2 separate regions of the Homo sapiens genome follow, and region 2 is linked to region 1. The links come from fine-mapping of genetic effects on gene expression. Tissue or cell type: whole blood. Region 1 holds a variant in brackets; the other region holds the start of a gene. All regions are shown on one strand. Distances are between the middles of the regions.

Region 1 (8,000 bases):
TAAGGATTACTTTCCAGAGGCAATGAAACTGGAGCTGAGTCTTGAGTAATTATTAGTTCCTTGGGGGAGAAACAGGGCTAAGGGAATTCTAAAGAGAAAGAGCATAAGCCGAAGCACAGGAAGCATGAAGGAGATAATGTGATCAAAAGATTCTGGACAGCTTAGTGTGTTAGGCTGGAACCCTTGGCCATGTGTGGAAGGGAGTAGCGGAGACTATCGCTGAAGATGAGACTCGAGTAGTGGGCTGGGGCCAGACTATAAAGAGTTTTGCAGGCCAGACAAAGGCACTCAGACTACTGCAGTGAAGGGAGGCAGTGAAGGTTTTCAAGCCGCAGTGATAAAATACATGTTTTTATTTTTAAATATTTAAATATTTATCTATCTATTTGAGATGGAGCTTCGCTCTTGTCGCCCAGGCTGGAGTGCAATGGCGCGGTGTCAGCTCACTGTAACCTCTGCCTTCCAGGTTCAAGTGATTCTCCTGCCTCAGCGTCTTGAGTAGCTGGGATTACAGGTGTGTGCCACCACGCCCAGTTAATTTTTAAATTTTTAGTACAGACGGGTTTCACCATGTTGGTCAGGCTGGTCTCGAACTTCTGACCTCACGTGATCCACCCACCTCGGCCTCCCAAAGTATTGGGATTACAGGCGTGAGCCACTGTGCCCGGCCAAAATAAGTGATTTTAGAAAGACAACTTGCAGTAGCATTATGGAAAATCAATCAGGTTTGCCTAAATAAGGGTGATAGAATCAAGAAGTATTATTGAAGGCAGAACTGACAAATTGCTGATCAACTGAAGTACGAAGAGAAACAAAGAACAATGATGAGCTGTTTTACATATTTTAAGCCTGAGTCATGCAGAATATTCAGAGAATAATGTCCAGACAGAATTTGGAAACCTGGGAGATTTTCCCAATAAAAGTATATGGAAGTAAAAATCACAAAATTCATCAACTTATTTTTTTTCATTATCATCTTATCTTCAGATGCCTCTTGAATATGCCAAACACCTTTTCTTGCTACCTCTTGATTTTTTCAATTTATTTAGCAGAACTATGTCTTTAAGCCCAATTAAAATATTAGTTGTATGGTTCAATCTGCTTGTGCTCATAAACTGAGGAAGGAACTATGGGAATTCTGGCCTTCAAACAGTAGAAGTCACCTACCTGAGTTAACTTGGGTGTATAAGCTTCCATTTCTTGTCTAATACTTTGAAAAGAATTAATAATGTCCTGACTTGTTGCATACTGTAGTGACTGGATTGGAGTTGGACCATGATAATACCTGCAGGTTAGCACAGAAGAAATTACTAATCACACACAGTAAAGATGCTCAACATTTGTCTTTGCAACATTTTAGCAGTCAGTACTAAGTTCCCCTCAAGGCAAGAAACGATAAGTAAAGAGATTTCAATAAAATAATTTAATTCCCATAAGGGCAATAAGAAAGCAACAGCAGAAAGATCCACATTTATTGTCATGGGTTTGATCATTTTTGCTTCCTGAGAAGCCTAAATTTTAAACAGAAAAGGATATTGTACTTTGATGGTGACGAACTGATTAAAACATGAGTGCTATACTTGTAGGATATATTTTGGACTGAATTGTTACATAGCTATTCTGCTTAATATTGACCAAACTTACCTATCTGACTTCTTGAGGTTTAGTGCAATCGTTTTTACAGAATTATTTTTCCCCAAGTCTTCATATTCAATGGACTCTTGTAATTTCGCCTATAATTATTAACACAGTACTTTTTATTTTGTCACAACTTTCTCTTACACAATAAACATGACTGAAAAAACAAAACTGTACAGAGGGTAAAAAATGAAGTCTTCCCACCATGAGCTTCTCTTCCTAGAGATGACTGTCCTACAAATGGCTGAACCAATTTTCTCAACAACTACTTAAGAATACTAGTTTTCTTACACTCTGACCACATGAAGTATTATTGAACTTTTTACTTTTGCCAATCTGGTAGGTGAAAGTTTACATTTTATTATTTTTTCCCCAAATGAATGATCTGTTATGCTCTCCACTATTTTTATATTGGGTACTTTTTAAAAAATAAGACTTTTAAATATTAAGGAAACAGTCTTTTACATGTTGTAAATACTTTATCTTCCAGTTTGGTGTTTTTTTGTTTTGTTTTGTTTTAATTATAAAAAAATCCTCTCCTCGGCAGGTGCCTGTAATCCCAGCTACTTGGGAGGCTGAGGCAGGAGAATCGCTTGAACCCGGGAGGCAGAGGTTGCAGTGAGCTGAGATCACGCCACTGCGTTCCAGCCTGGGCGACAAGTGAGACTTCATCAAAAAAAAAAAAAAAAATTCCGCCTCTTTGCCCGCTTTTTGCTTATACATCTGTGGCTTAAAAAATTTTTTTTTTCTAGGCGCATATCACCACCTCCCCAGCCAAACTCAGTCTCCTAAATTGCGGAGATTACAGACACATGCTACCATGCTCAGCTTCCGGCTTAATTTTTGCTTAATCTTAGATCCACTCAGAATTTATTTTGGATTAGGAGTAAAATAGGGAATCTAAGTTTCTTTTAACAAAATTATCAATCAGTGCTTCTAACACCATTTGTAAAATAATTTACCTTTTCCCACTGATTTTTAAAATGTCATGTGTATCATACATATGCTTAATTCCTCCACGTATTTGGGTTTACTTCTGGACTCTTTTAGTAATTTTATTCATTAATTTTATTAATCTGTTACCCCCTGTGCTATTAACAACCTGCTTAAATTTTTACAGCCTTGTAATAATACAAACATATTACTTATGAAAGATACATGATCTATGTAAACATTTGTGCAAATCAGCCTTGAAATATTTCATCCTCTACAAAGCTATGAAATTCATCTGGTCAACTCTTATTGACTACCAAGACTAGAATCAGAACATTCAGGTTATTAACTATACCTCAAAAAACGTCAATCTGAAAACTTAACGTTTTAAATTGCTCCAGCTTTAAGATTCTAAATAGTCCCTTTATGGTACAGGAACAAATCTGACCTCACATGAAGTCACAAATCTGACCTCAATCTGAAAACTTAACGTTTTAAATTGCTCCAGCTTTAAGATTCTAAATAGTCCCTTTATGGTACAGGAACAAATCTGACCTCAGAGAAACACATCCTTACCTAGACTCAGCCTGACTTTTTTTTTTTTAACTACTTTCTCAACTCTATACCTTTCAGCCAACTTCAAGGATTACTGATGTCTTCATGATTTTTGACATATGTCAAGCTTATCTCTACCCCTGCTGTTGCCTTACCTATGACATGTCCCTACCCAAGCTCCCATAACAATCCAAATCCTAAACTTATGCCAAGGCCTTGTTAGGTCACCTGACTTTCACACTTAAATGAAAGCTCCATCAAGGTAGGGACTCTGTCTGCTATTAATTCTGAATCTCTCATTCTACAAGTGAGAGAATCTATAAATTGTAACCCTTTATAGAATAAACAGCAGTCAACCACTGACTTGGAAGAATAGTTAGAGCCAGCATTTACCACTGAATACTGATAGCCCCTGACTTACAATGGTTTGACTTGGAATTTTTCAACTTTATGATGGTGTCAAAGTGATTCACATTCAGTAGAGAAACCATATTTTGAGTACCCATACATTGTTTTTCACTTTCAGTATTCAATGAGTTACATGAGATATTCAACATTTTATTAGAAAATACACTTTATAGTAGGTAATGCTGCCCAACTACAGGCTAATCTAAGTGTTCGGAACACATTTAAAGTAGGATAGGCTAAACTATGGTGTTCCATACATTAGGTGTATTCAATGCATTTTTGATTTACAGTATTTGCAACTTATGAGTTTATTGGGATGTAGCCCCATTTAAGTCGAGAAGCATCTGTATTGTAAAAATTCACACAAGTAAATAAATTTCTTTTTTATTTTTTCTTTGAGATGGAGTCTTGCTCTGTCATCCAGGCTGGAGTGCAGCGACGCGATCCCAGCTCACTGCGAACTCCGCCTGCCAGGTTCAAGTGATTTTGCTGCCTCAGCCTCCCAGGTAGCTGGAATTACAGGCGCACGTCACCATGCCTGGCTAATTTCTGTATTTTTAATAGAGACAGGGTTTCACCATGCTGGCCAGGCTGATCTAGAAATTCTGACCTCAAGTGATCCACCCACCTTGGACTCCCAAAGTGCTGGGACTACAGGTGTGAGCCACGGCTCCTGGCCAAGAAATTTCTGATAACTTGTTCACCACCAAGAATCAAGGGTACTCAGCCCAACAGTATACAAAGAAAGTATCACTTAATAGATTTCTTCTCTAACTTCTCTATAACTTATTATTAGCTTTGCTTTAGTTCAAAAAAGAAATACCTCACTGGCTTTATTAATTTTATAGGTAATACATGCCTGTAAAAACATTAAGTTACTGAAATAG[G/T]CTGGCACAGTGGCTCATGCCTGTAACCCCAGCACTTTGGGAGGCTGAGATGGGCGGATCACATGAGGCCAGGAGTTCAACACCAGCCTGGCCAATATGGCAAAACTCCGTCTCTACTAAAAATACAAAAATTAGCTAGGTATGGTGGTGCACGCCTGTAATCCCAGCTACTCCGGAGGCTGAGGCAGAAGAATTGCTTGAATCCAGGAGGCAGACGTTGCAGTGAGCCGAGATTGCAGTGAGCTGAGATTGCACCACTGCACTCCAGCCTGGGTGACAGAGCAAGACTCTGTCTCAAAAAAACAAACAATAACAACAACAAAAACATTAAATTACTGAAATAAATGAAAGAAATTAAGACTTACCCATACTCTCTTTATTGAAAGATAACCGTTTAGCATATTCATTTGAAGGCCCTTTTAAAGCTCACAAACTATTTTTTTTGTGTGTAAAACTGTACTGTACAATCTGTTCAGTGAACTCTTTGATGCAATATTATCATTAATGCTTTCAAAATAATGAACAGTTGCATCAATCTCTATTGTATTAATGCAACACAGATAACAGAATCCTTGCTACTGTCTTTATTATGATACTGTAATGAATATTTCTATCTAAATCTTAGTATACATCTTTCTTAAGAAATAAATGTCCACAAGTAGAACTAAGGGTGTAAAGCTTTAAACATTTAATACACATTGCCTGACTGCTCTCTAAGAAAGCTTTATCATAATTAGGAAGGGAGGTACAAAATAGCGTGGCAAAGTTGCAGGAGAAGAATAAATACACAAGCAGCTAATTCTGTCCATCCTTCTCCACACCCTCAAATGATTTCTTCAATATTTAATGAGAAGACACTTTCAGCTCTGAAATGCTAGGTTTAACATGAGGGCCAATTCACTTTCTTTGAAAAATCATATACATGAAACTTCGGTTTTTCTGTCATATTGCCTCTGTTGAATGAAGATTTTATTCCCAGAGAACAAAATCACATATAAGAACAATCTGTATGTATGTGTACATGTGAGGAAAACAAACAAACAAACAAACAAAAAACAATAAAAATGGCTAACAGGCTAGAGTCAATGGAAAGTTGGCTGGCAAGCCAAAGCTGGGGAAATACTCTTTGTAATGCTATACACTTTAAGCCAAATGCTTAACATCTTAGTTAGAAGAACTGAGTCACAGGAAATAAGCGTATACAGTACTTGCAGTCACATAAAGTATTTGGAGAAACTTGAGCCCCAAATGGTTCATATTTTTTTGCCCATACCCTTTTGACTGCTGGCTGAAAGCAGTCTGCATCTCCGGAATTTCCATCCATGTTGCTGGGCTCACTAGTTTGTTCATTTTGTGCTTCTCTTAAAATAAAGGGGAAAAAAAAGTTAACGTTAAAAACCACAAGCAAAACAACACCACAACTCCATCTGGATATCCTGAAAAGCCCAGTTACTGCACCTCTGCATTTATACTTAACTGTTTTCTGAGTCCAGCTGCCAGGACCATGGCACTGTGATGGTTAAATCTCTTGATGATGGCAGCATTACTATTCTCTTTTATGGATTTAGAATTGGAAGCAGATGGCACAGAGGAAATGCCATAGCCCTGTGAGAAATAATAGATTAAAAATTTTTTAAAAAGGTTCTGCTTTTCTTATTATAAGACACGCTTAGCTGAAAAAATTTGCTGGATGATGGGACTTTTATTACTTCTCACGAACATTAAATATTTATGAACAAACATTTAAAAACAAGTGACATTATGCACATAAAAGATTAACAAATAGCACTAACTCGTTTTAGCATTACAAAATACATCTTAAACTGAATTTCTCTCTGTTTTTGAGATGGAGTCCCGCTCTGTTGCTCAGGCTGGAGTGCAACCTTCGCCTCCTGCATTCAAGTGATTCTCTTGCCTCAGCCTCCTGAGAAGCTGGGATTACAGGCGCCTGCCACCACGCCCGGCTAATATTTTGTATTTTTAGTAGAGATGGGGTTTCACCATGCTGGTCAGACTGGTCTTGAACTCCTGACCTCAAGTGATCCGCCCACCTTGGCCTCCCAAAGTGCTGGGATTACAGGTGTGAGCCACCGTGCGTGGTCTGCATTTCTCTTTTAAAGAACAATTTGGATCTAGTTATCAAAACGTTAAATAAAAGCAATAGAGTCAGGATACCTGTAATCCCAGCACTCTGGGAGGCCAAGGTGGGCGAGTCACCTGAGGTCAGGAGTTCAAAACTAGCCCGGCCAACATGGTGAAACCTCATCTCTATCAAAAATACAAAAATTAGCCAGGTATGGTGGCACACACCTGTAATCCCAGCTGTTGGGGAGGCTGAGTGAGGCAGGAGAATCACTTGAACCCAGGAGGCAGAGGTGGCAGTGAGCTGAGATTGCACCACTGCACTCCAGCCTGGGTGACAGAGTGAGACTGTCTCAAAAAAAAAAAAAAAAAAAAAAGTAAATAAAAAGAATAGAATATAGTGAGAAAAACACTGACTATGGATTCAGAAAGATAAAGAGTCAAATTCTTTTTCTAACGTTAATCTAGGCAAGATAAACTTTTCCAAGCTCTATAAAGTAGGATAAAAGAGAATAAAATGAGATTATATTTTAAAACATGTATTGAGTGCACGCTACTTGCTAGACCATGTAGATACAAAATTGATTAAGACCCCATGCCATAGGAGCTTAAATACTAGTTAGTGGGAAGCTGGGCTGGAGAGAATTACTAATCAATCCTACTGGAGAAGAGGGTTCGAAAAAGGTTCACAGAGAACCATAAGATAAACTGGTGCTTGCCAAGTAGATCGGAGACAATAACATTTCAGGGAGAGGAAACTGCTTAAACAAAGGCAAAGAGGCACTGTGGTCCTGATTATTTGGGAGGTTGAGGCAGAAGAACTGTTGAGCCGAAGAGTTCAAGTCCAGCCTGGCAACACAGTGAGACCTTGTCTCTATTTAAAAATAAAACAAAACACAAGCAAAGCAGCAATGTAGTACATATTGTGTCATGAGACTGTATATGGTTCAATACACTAATAACGGTGGTCCAGGAATTGGTGAGGCTAAAAAGGTGAAAGAAAGATCATGAGACTCATATGGGCCAGGCGTGGTGGCTTACGCCTGTAATCCCAACACTTTGGGAGGCTGAGGCGGGTGGATCATGAGGTCAGGAGATCGAGGCCATCCTGGCTAACACGGTGAAATCCTTTCCGTACTAAAAATACAAAAAATTAGCCGGGCGAGGTGGCGGACGCCTGTAGTCCCAGCTACTCAGGAGGCTGAGGCAGGAGAATGGCATGAACCCCAGGGGGCAGAGCCTGCAGTGAGCCGAGATGGTGCTACTGCACTCTAGCCTGGGTGACAGCAAGACTCCGTCTCAAAAAAAAAAAAACTCATATGTGCTGGGTGTGGTGGCTCACGCCTGTAATCCCACCACTTTGGGAGGCTGAGGTGGGTGGGTCACCTGAGGTTGGGAATTCAAGACCAGTCTGGTCGTGGTGAAACCCTGTACTAAAAATACAAAAATTAGCTGGGCGTGGTGTGTGCCTATGATCCCACCTACTCAGGAAGCTGA
Region 2 (8,000 bases), 28 kb after region 1:
CCAGCTAAAGTCTCCTATTATTTTCTTCATGGCACTTACAACAACATAATTTTTAATGTGATTCTTTTAATGTACACGTCTCCTGACAGATTGCAAGCTTCATAAGGGAGGGCAGAGGCCATATATGTCGGGTTCTCTGTAATATAGCACCCAGTAATATAGTGTTTGGCCTATAAGAAGAGTCCAAGAAGTATCAATGACATCATTTAAGATCTTGCTGTTAAAAGAATACAATCTCTTGCTAAGACATAATAAGGAATCTTTGCATATACATCTTTGCCTAAACTCCGGGAACCACTATAGTTTTCAATTCACAGATCAATGTACCATTTCTCATACAGATTCTAATAACTGGATCTTGCTCTTAAAAGGCAACAGTGATAAGGAAGAATATGAACTGGTTGAATACAAATCTTTACATTACTGCACCTCTGCATTTCCATTACCTACATCCCCTTTTCCAATGTGCAAGAGATAAATGGAGGAGAGGAGATAGGGAGCAACAAGTGAAAGAGAAATCTTCTGAAAGAAGGATTACTAGAGAGCACTGTTATATCTGCCAGCATACAAAAATGGAGATTTGGAATGCTGCTTGCCATCAAGCAATCCAAAAGTGTTTGAACAATTCAGCATTAAAGGGAATAACTTTATAAGTATGTAAAGAGTGACCAAAATGTACTGTTTTAAGGATAATTTCACAGACAAGGAAGATATTAAGGAGAATAACTGATGTGGCAATTTTAGGACTGAGCACTTGTACATTTTACAGCAGTGCAGGGAAGAGGCAGGAGGAAAATGCGACAGAGATGCATGACAGAAGAAAATATGCTCATATCCATTAATAAATACTGCATGCTGACAAGAGTATATTACCAAAATTGAGAGAAGAGTAATCAGTTGGTAATCAAAGTGGTGAAAAGAGGAACTACTAGGTCAATGGCTGATACTGCCACACTGAAGGCAGGAAAGAGAAAGGAAGGGCACAAAGACATCTCTATCAGCAGTATGCATAAGGCAGAGATAAATGGTGGCCAAAATGCTAGGAAAGCTCAAGGTATGCCAGACAACATTCTGATGGTAGGGAATAAAATAGCACAGAGAAGCAGGTTATCAGAGGGCAGGACACATGGTACCAGCAGGGAGAAGTTACAAGCCTTGAGGGCAGTACACACAGGAAGCATTCACAACCCAGGACTGGTGCTGGTCGCTGGCTTCACTACTTTTAACTGATTCTTCTCCCACACTGCACCAAGTTTCCTAGTATTTTTCAAAAGCCCTCTCTGAATTTGCTTTGATTTTTTTTCACATTTGTACTGCAATGTGTATTTTATATCACCTAAGAGAGACTCAAACTTACCAATCTGTTGCACTGCTACAAGTCGGCTGAATGGCCTGGTCAACATGGTGAAACCCCGTCTCTACCAAAAATACAAAAATTAGCCAGGCATGGTGGCGTGCGCCTGTGATCCCAGCCGCTGGGGAGGCTGAGGCAGGAGAAGCCCTTGAACCCGGTAGATGGAGGTTGCAGTGAGCAGAGATCGCGCCATTGCACTCCAGCCTGGGCAACAAGAGCAAAACTCCGTCTCAAAAAAAAAAAAAAATGTCGGCTGAGTGAGGATAGCAGACCATCTCTTTTTTCTCCTTTCTGAATGAGGGACTTAAGCCTGCTAACAGGTACAAAGTTCTCTCCAGAGTTTAGTCCTTCTCTAAGTCCAAGGCCTGCTACTAGAGGTTACCTTCCCTGCGGTTGTGACCTCTCCATCTCAACTGCTCTGGTTTTGTCTTTTAAAAAATCTTAAGGTTGGCAACTTTGGCTTAATTACCTAAGTCCAGTTCAGTGGTTTTCAAACTGTGTTCCAAGGAGTGGCCTCTAGGATAGAAGTTAAGTGGGGTGGTGGGGCCTGGCCCTTTTAAATTTAGTTCCACCAGAGCATGCTGCTTTATATATTGGGTTCCAGATAAAAATTCATGGGGAGAAATTGTTCCACTCCTTTAAAATGTTTGAAAATCACAAGTCTGGATATTGGTTTGTATGGAGTCAATACTCACTGCAAAGCACATTTCATTCAAACCACTCAGTTTTTTTTTTGTTTTTGTTTTTAAGACTGGGTCTTCAAATGGACAAAGGGTGTATTTTTCATATCTTCTTTCCCCATCCCCATTTTACTGATGCTAAAATTGGAGTTTAGGAGTCATTTGGGGCCAGGCACTGTAGCATAATTCTGGCGCTTTGGGAGGTCTAGGCAGGAGAATCGCTTGAGCCCAGGAATTCGAGGTTACAGTGAGCTATTATCACGCCACTGCATTCCAGCCAGGACGACAGAACAAGACTCTGTCTCTTAAAAAAAAATAAGAAAAGTCACCTCCTTATTTAATTTGGCCTTTGAGAACACTGGGGGATTTACAAAATAATTACATATATCCAGGTACTCATGGTCTATTTTTCATCATTACACGACAATCAAATGACCAAAACTAGGAGTGTGTGGACTGGCACGTGTTAAGGTTTTTAAGAGAGGTAAGATTGACAGGTGGAAGCAAAAGGTGTGCAGACAACAAGGTGACAGCTTTTCTCTTACAGAATCCCAGACTCAACAGCACATTTCCTGACGGGAAGGGCTTCTCTGTCTGGGAGAGGCCTCCACTTCATTCTCATAAGCCAAATCTGATCCTGGCTTTGGGTAAACCTGCTCTCAATTTAAGAGCAGGTTTCCTTTAGACAAGTAGATTAGGGGTCGCCTCTTCCTCGCCTCGGGATAAGGGCAAACAAGACGCCAGGCTTGGGCGTTGGGAGGACGGCGACAGCGACGCTGGGAACAGGGGTAGAATCCACGCCGTCCAGCGGCCCCCAGGCCTGTCAGCTCCTCACCCGCCCACCCACCCGCCCGCCTGCATTCTTCGGTCTAAACTTACCAGGTGGAAGCTACAACTCTAGACAGGAAGTAACTAACTGGGTTGGATCCGGTCGAGTTCCGCTGCGCTTCTTAGAGCCGCTGCTGGGAAGAGGCCGAAACCCAGTGGCCGCAGCAGTAGCCACCGCCTCTGTTACTAGGGGGTCTCGCCTCCATCGCTGGCTGCGAGGAGTCTGAGGGCACGTGACCGGAAGTAGCAAGGCGGGCCCTGGGCACGTGACTCAAGAGCGCGGCCGCCATGACACCTTCCGCTAGTTCCCTCCCTCCCCCACGGGTTCCCGCCTGTTTCGTTTCCTCTCTCCGGTCTCGAGCGGCGAAGGGTCCTGGGATCCTGGCTGGCCCAACCATTTGGCCTAGAGCTCCTCCGGTTCCAGTCGGCGCCGTGTCTCCAGCCCGCAACGGCCCTGCGGTCGCAGGCCGTAGAGAGCGTAATCGCGACCGCGGCCTGAGGGGGAGGGACCACGCGGAAGGAGGGGCGTGACTCGTCACGTGATGAGGAAGTGCCGTTAGTAGCGTTGTTTCCAGTCTGCGGCTCTCCTGGATGACGTCAGCAAGGAAGGGGAGGAACGCGAGGGGAGACTGAAGTTCACGTTCCGCTCTTAGTGCGCGGTGAGTTCCCCGGCGCTAAGCCGGGAGACAAGATCCGATCTACTGAGAGCTGCGAGGTACTGCCCTGGATGTGGTGGAGCTGGGCTGGGACCTCCGGGCTGCTGGTCTGTGAGCCTGGCTTTGAAAATTGGTTACTGGGTCTCCTCTCAAGAAATCTCAAGATATTAAAGTTACTGCTGTTAAAAAGGTAGTAGTTCCACTAGGCAAGGAGCTTTTTGTGGGTAGGGATTGTGTTTTGTTCATCCCTGTGTCTCTAGCGGTGTGTTCAGGTCCTGGAACATAGTAGGCACTCAGAATGTTGAATGAATGAATGTATAAATGAGTCAGTCGCCATTTGTCTGAGGCAGAGAGTTGTTTTCTGATCATTTCTTCTTGGATAGAAAGATCCCATTGTGAAAATGAGGCAGTCTGCAACTTCCCCTTCTCATTTCTTCAATTTTTGCTATCTTTCTTACTTCTTTCTCCTCTTCCTCCACGCACCTACTGGGGCAAAAGAGAAACATGTTTGCATTTGATGTGTGAGCAACAAACACTGAACTATTTTACGATAATGGAAAGATGAGATTTGGATTCAGGAGACGCGTATTCTAATCTCAGCTCTACCATTTATGAACTCTGTGATCCTTGGGCAAGCCAGTCTCCCAAAAGTTGTTTCATTTACTTTGGTTAAGCATTTGTCGCCAACTTCTATGTTCTTAGTTTTTGGTAGAGTGCCTTCACAGAAGTAACATTTAAACTCAGCTTTGCAGAAAGGTAGGGTTTTGGTAAATGGGGGAAGATTCCATAAACATCATATATTAAACCATGGAGGCACAGCAAGTTTATGGAATGAAAAAGAAAAAAAGAGTCGAGTCCAATGTAGTTGGAGAATAGAGAGGTTAAGATGGGAAATAAGGCTGGAAAAAGAAGCAGGGAGGAGATAACAGATTTTCAAGAAATAGAGCTGTTGAAGGCTTGTACAATATTATGTATATATTTTTTAAATTTTATTGTGGAAAATTTCAAACGCAGACAAAAGTAGGATAATAAATTGAACCCTCATGTACACTTAACGCAACTTGAACAATTATCAGCATTCTGCTGTTCCTCTTTATACTGTTTGTACATTTCTAGGTACTTTTTATATCCATTGTTGCATTTGATTAATAGCAGCTTTCAATTTGAGCTCAGTTCTACTGTATGTAGCTACTGGCTAAGAAGATTTTATTTATGTAAACAATTTCTTTGGGTTTTAGTTGACCACTTGCTCTGTTGAATCAATGTGTAACATGGCCACTTAAACACAACTAATACTGTTTTTAGGTTGTAATATAGAAACTTAGTGTCTAGATCCAGGAAGTTAGTGTTTCTACTCTATTCTGGGCTCATCTAACTACTTAAGGAGTATTATGCTCAGTTCTAGGCACCTCATTTTTAGGCAAACTACAGTGCCTCTGTAGAAGGTTGACTGGAACAGAGGGTTGGAAAATGTCATGTCAGGAGTGATGAAGAAACTGGGAATGTTAAATTTTTAGAAGACCTGATAATGCTTTTCAAATACAGAAGGATTGTTTTGGAAAGAGACAGCTTGTTCCCTTCAGCTGTAGAAGCTACATACAATTAGGAATAATGGTAGAGCTCTAAGTGATCAGGCTTCAGCATAGTATTAAAAAGAACCTTATAATAGTGAGCCCTTTGGAGGACTGGAATTGGCAGCTTCATGAGAGTGAGTGCTTTCTTTCCATGGCTGAAAATGTTCAGGGATCTAGGGCAAAACTAATTTCTGAATTAGGTGGACATGTTCACTGAATTACCTATGAATCTTTTTCCATCTTGAGAATTCTAGGAAGTAGGGCTCATGTGCGATCTTGAAAGCTGGGTATGTTTGGATAAGAAAATCTGGAAGGGAAGCAGTCATTTCAGGGAGAGTAAACATAAAGTATAAAGTTGAAGTTGGTTTAACACTGTCATTCAGCAGCTTCTCTGAGAATTGGCATTGCTTATGCTGTTTTTATTTTCCATTCTCATTTCTGTTAAATTCTTTTTTTCTTTTCAGTAGAACTTACTAGGTGTGTCCCCCTGCACACCCCCGCATTATATTATAACTTCCAGGACATTCTCTTTTTACCGAGATTAAGGCAAAATGACCTACTCAGAGTTTCTTTGTTTCAAGATCACAAGTAGAAGAGACACTATGATATTATCATTCCTTTCCATCTCTTGGATCCTGTACCATGGTTTTATCTTTTTCTTGAATCTTCAGTCCCTTTCGTTCTAGACTCTACTTTTAGCTACTACCTACAAATCTGTTGAAGAGTCTCCCCAATAATAACGTCAAGAGAGGTTTTCTCCTTTTCCACCAGACTTCTTGAGTAATTGAAATGTTTTATCCTCATTTTCATATCACCCACCCGTTTTCTCAAGTCTTTGTTTTCTAGCATCTAACCACCCACAGCACTTTACAGAAATTGTGTGACCTCCCAACACACAATTCTTCAATTCCTTTCTGTTGCCTGCCAAGTTAAGTTCAGGTTCTTTGGTTTGAAATTCAAAGTGTTTTGTAACTTGGGCCCAAATTAAGATTCCAGCTTTATCTTTCATTATTCCGTTGCTTGTATCCTGTTTCAACCAAAGACTAAATTTGTATTCTTCTAGTATATTCTGCATTTTTTTCTTCTCTATATATTTGCTTATTGCTACCCTACCTGCTACCCTTTCCCTTTTCCTTGAGATAAAAGCCTAGTCAGCATCAGTACTACTTTCCTTAGAGCGTTTTCTTCAGTTCCCTTTAATTCAATGTGATCCCTCTGTCCTGTAAAGTTCTAACAAAGCAGTTTGCTTATGTTTCCCTTATAAGATGTGTGTGTGTGTGTGTGTGTGTGTGTGTGTGTGTGTGTGGTATTTGTCTTTTCCTCCGTATTATAAACTGACTGACTTCTGGAATTATTTTACTTGTCTTATTTTTACCACTGTGCCTGGTACTTTACTAGGTACTCAATGAAATGAATGAGTGAAAACAATGAGGGAAGATTTTCTTAGGTCAATAATTCTCAAATATTTTGAGTACAGGCATGTGAAAGTTTCTTTCTGGGTTTTTTCTTTTTTTTTTTCCTGAACATTCTCCTTGCAGAGGTCAAGGTGTATTAGGAACAGTGTTACTAGCAGAAAATAAGATTGTGTTATGTGTGTGCAATAAAAAATATAGTCTTCGTTTTGCCACTAGAAAGTATGCTCTATGAGGGTTAGAACTTTATCATCTCCAGGACCTAGAATAATGTCTGGCACGTAGGTGGGTGCTCAGTACAAATTTGTTGAATAAATGAGTGATGGAATATATATGTTTCTGGAAAAAAAGTCAAAAACGTAAAGCATGAACAAACAACAAGAATGTATAAACAGTTCATGACTTTTTCTGTTGTATTCATTGGCTTTCTAAATTTGGCAGGTAACAAGTGATTGAGAAAAGTTATAATTAATGAGTAGAATTTTCTTTTCTTTTTTTCTGGAGATTGGTGCAAGTTGACAAAAAAGTGCATTTGAGAGTAGGTGAACACATAAAAACTTTCGTGTTACTTTACAAAGTCCTCACTGGTTATTTGGCATTTGTTACCTTGTATTCTTATCCGTATTCTGTCCTATCTAGTCTCTTTTGTTGAAGCGCTTATTTTTCTTTGTGCTCTAATTCCCTGTACCTTCTCACTTAGTAGATCTGTTCATTCATTCACCATACTTACTAAGCCCCTGCTCGGTTGAAGAGAGAAGTCTAGTGGCCTATTCCTATAAACCACTGTTAAATTGTTAGCTGATAACTGTAGGGTTTGCTGATAACAGTTAATAAGTTGAGGCCTTTACAGAAGATTGCGTTTTAATGAGAGACTCCTAAAGACAGAAGATTTAGTATTCATAGAAATGCAGCAGCAAGGTTGCTGTTTTAACTCAGGGTGATATGCCAATTTTCCTAAATCCTACTCTACCTATTCTGTTTACTCACACTGTTAGATAATACAGGGGGATAGGCTTATGGAGGGCCCTGAGAATCCGTACCTGCTACTCTGGGAGTTTTAGAGTCAGGGAATGACACAATGTAAACACACTGTGGCATACGATGTTACCTTATGTGTTTTCTTTCTAAGTCCCTGTATAGTGGGGACTTTCTCATGTTTCTCTATGTTCCCCACATATTTGTTAAATGCATGTTAAATGAATGGTGGGCTTCTTAAATTATATTTTTGTGGATTTTATTCAGGTGAGGAATACTGTATCTATCATTCAACAAGTTTCAGCTTTCTGGCTAAATGGCTTTTGTGCCAGTGATACCAGAGTCCTACAGCCATGTTCTTGCAGAGTTTGAATCTCTGGATCCATTACTCTCAGCCCTGCGGCTGGACTCCAGTCGTCTAAAGGTGAATTTCTTGATCCTTGTATCAGTTTCATTTTCACGTGCTCTCTGTTACTGTGCCCCTACCCTCCAGTTCCTTAACGTTTTGTGGAATCTTGGGT

The links. PIP is the estimated chance that this variant, and not a neighbour inherited with it, causes the effect.
Region 2: it holds the start of GTF2H1, and the variant in region 1 is fine-mapped to the expression of GTF2H1 in whole blood (INTERVAL, PIP 0.98).

The regions. Positions count from the first base shown.
Region 1 is chr11:18,345,614-18,353,613 of GRCh38, reverse strand. GTF2H1 (general transcription factor IIH subunit 1) reads right to left here. Exons shown (of 15, transcript NM_005316.4): 8 at 5,899-6,026; 9 at 5,695-5,782; 10 at 1,645-1,733; 11 at 1,168-1,285. It overlaps LOC105376577 (a long non-coding RNA gene), which reads right to left and starts at 4,497. Exons shown (of 2, transcript XR_007062611.1): 1 at 3,127-4,497; 2 at 1,735-3,019. The variant G/T (reference allele first, on the strand shown) is at 4,422.
Region 2 is chr11:18,317,654-18,325,653 of GRCh38, reverse strand. It overlaps GTF2H1 (general transcription factor IIH subunit 1), which reads right to left and starts at 3,087. Exons shown (of 15, transcript NM_005316.4): 1 at 2,914-3,087. It overlaps HPS5 (HPS5 biogenesis of lysosomal organelles complex 2 subunit 2), which reads left to right and starts at 3,514. Exons shown (of 23, transcript NM_181507.2): 1 at 3,514-3,708; 2 at 7,747-7,903. The coding sequence starts at 7,796. RefSeq lists enhancers at 3,110-3,529, 3,540-3,839, 2,730-3,929, 3,067-4,016.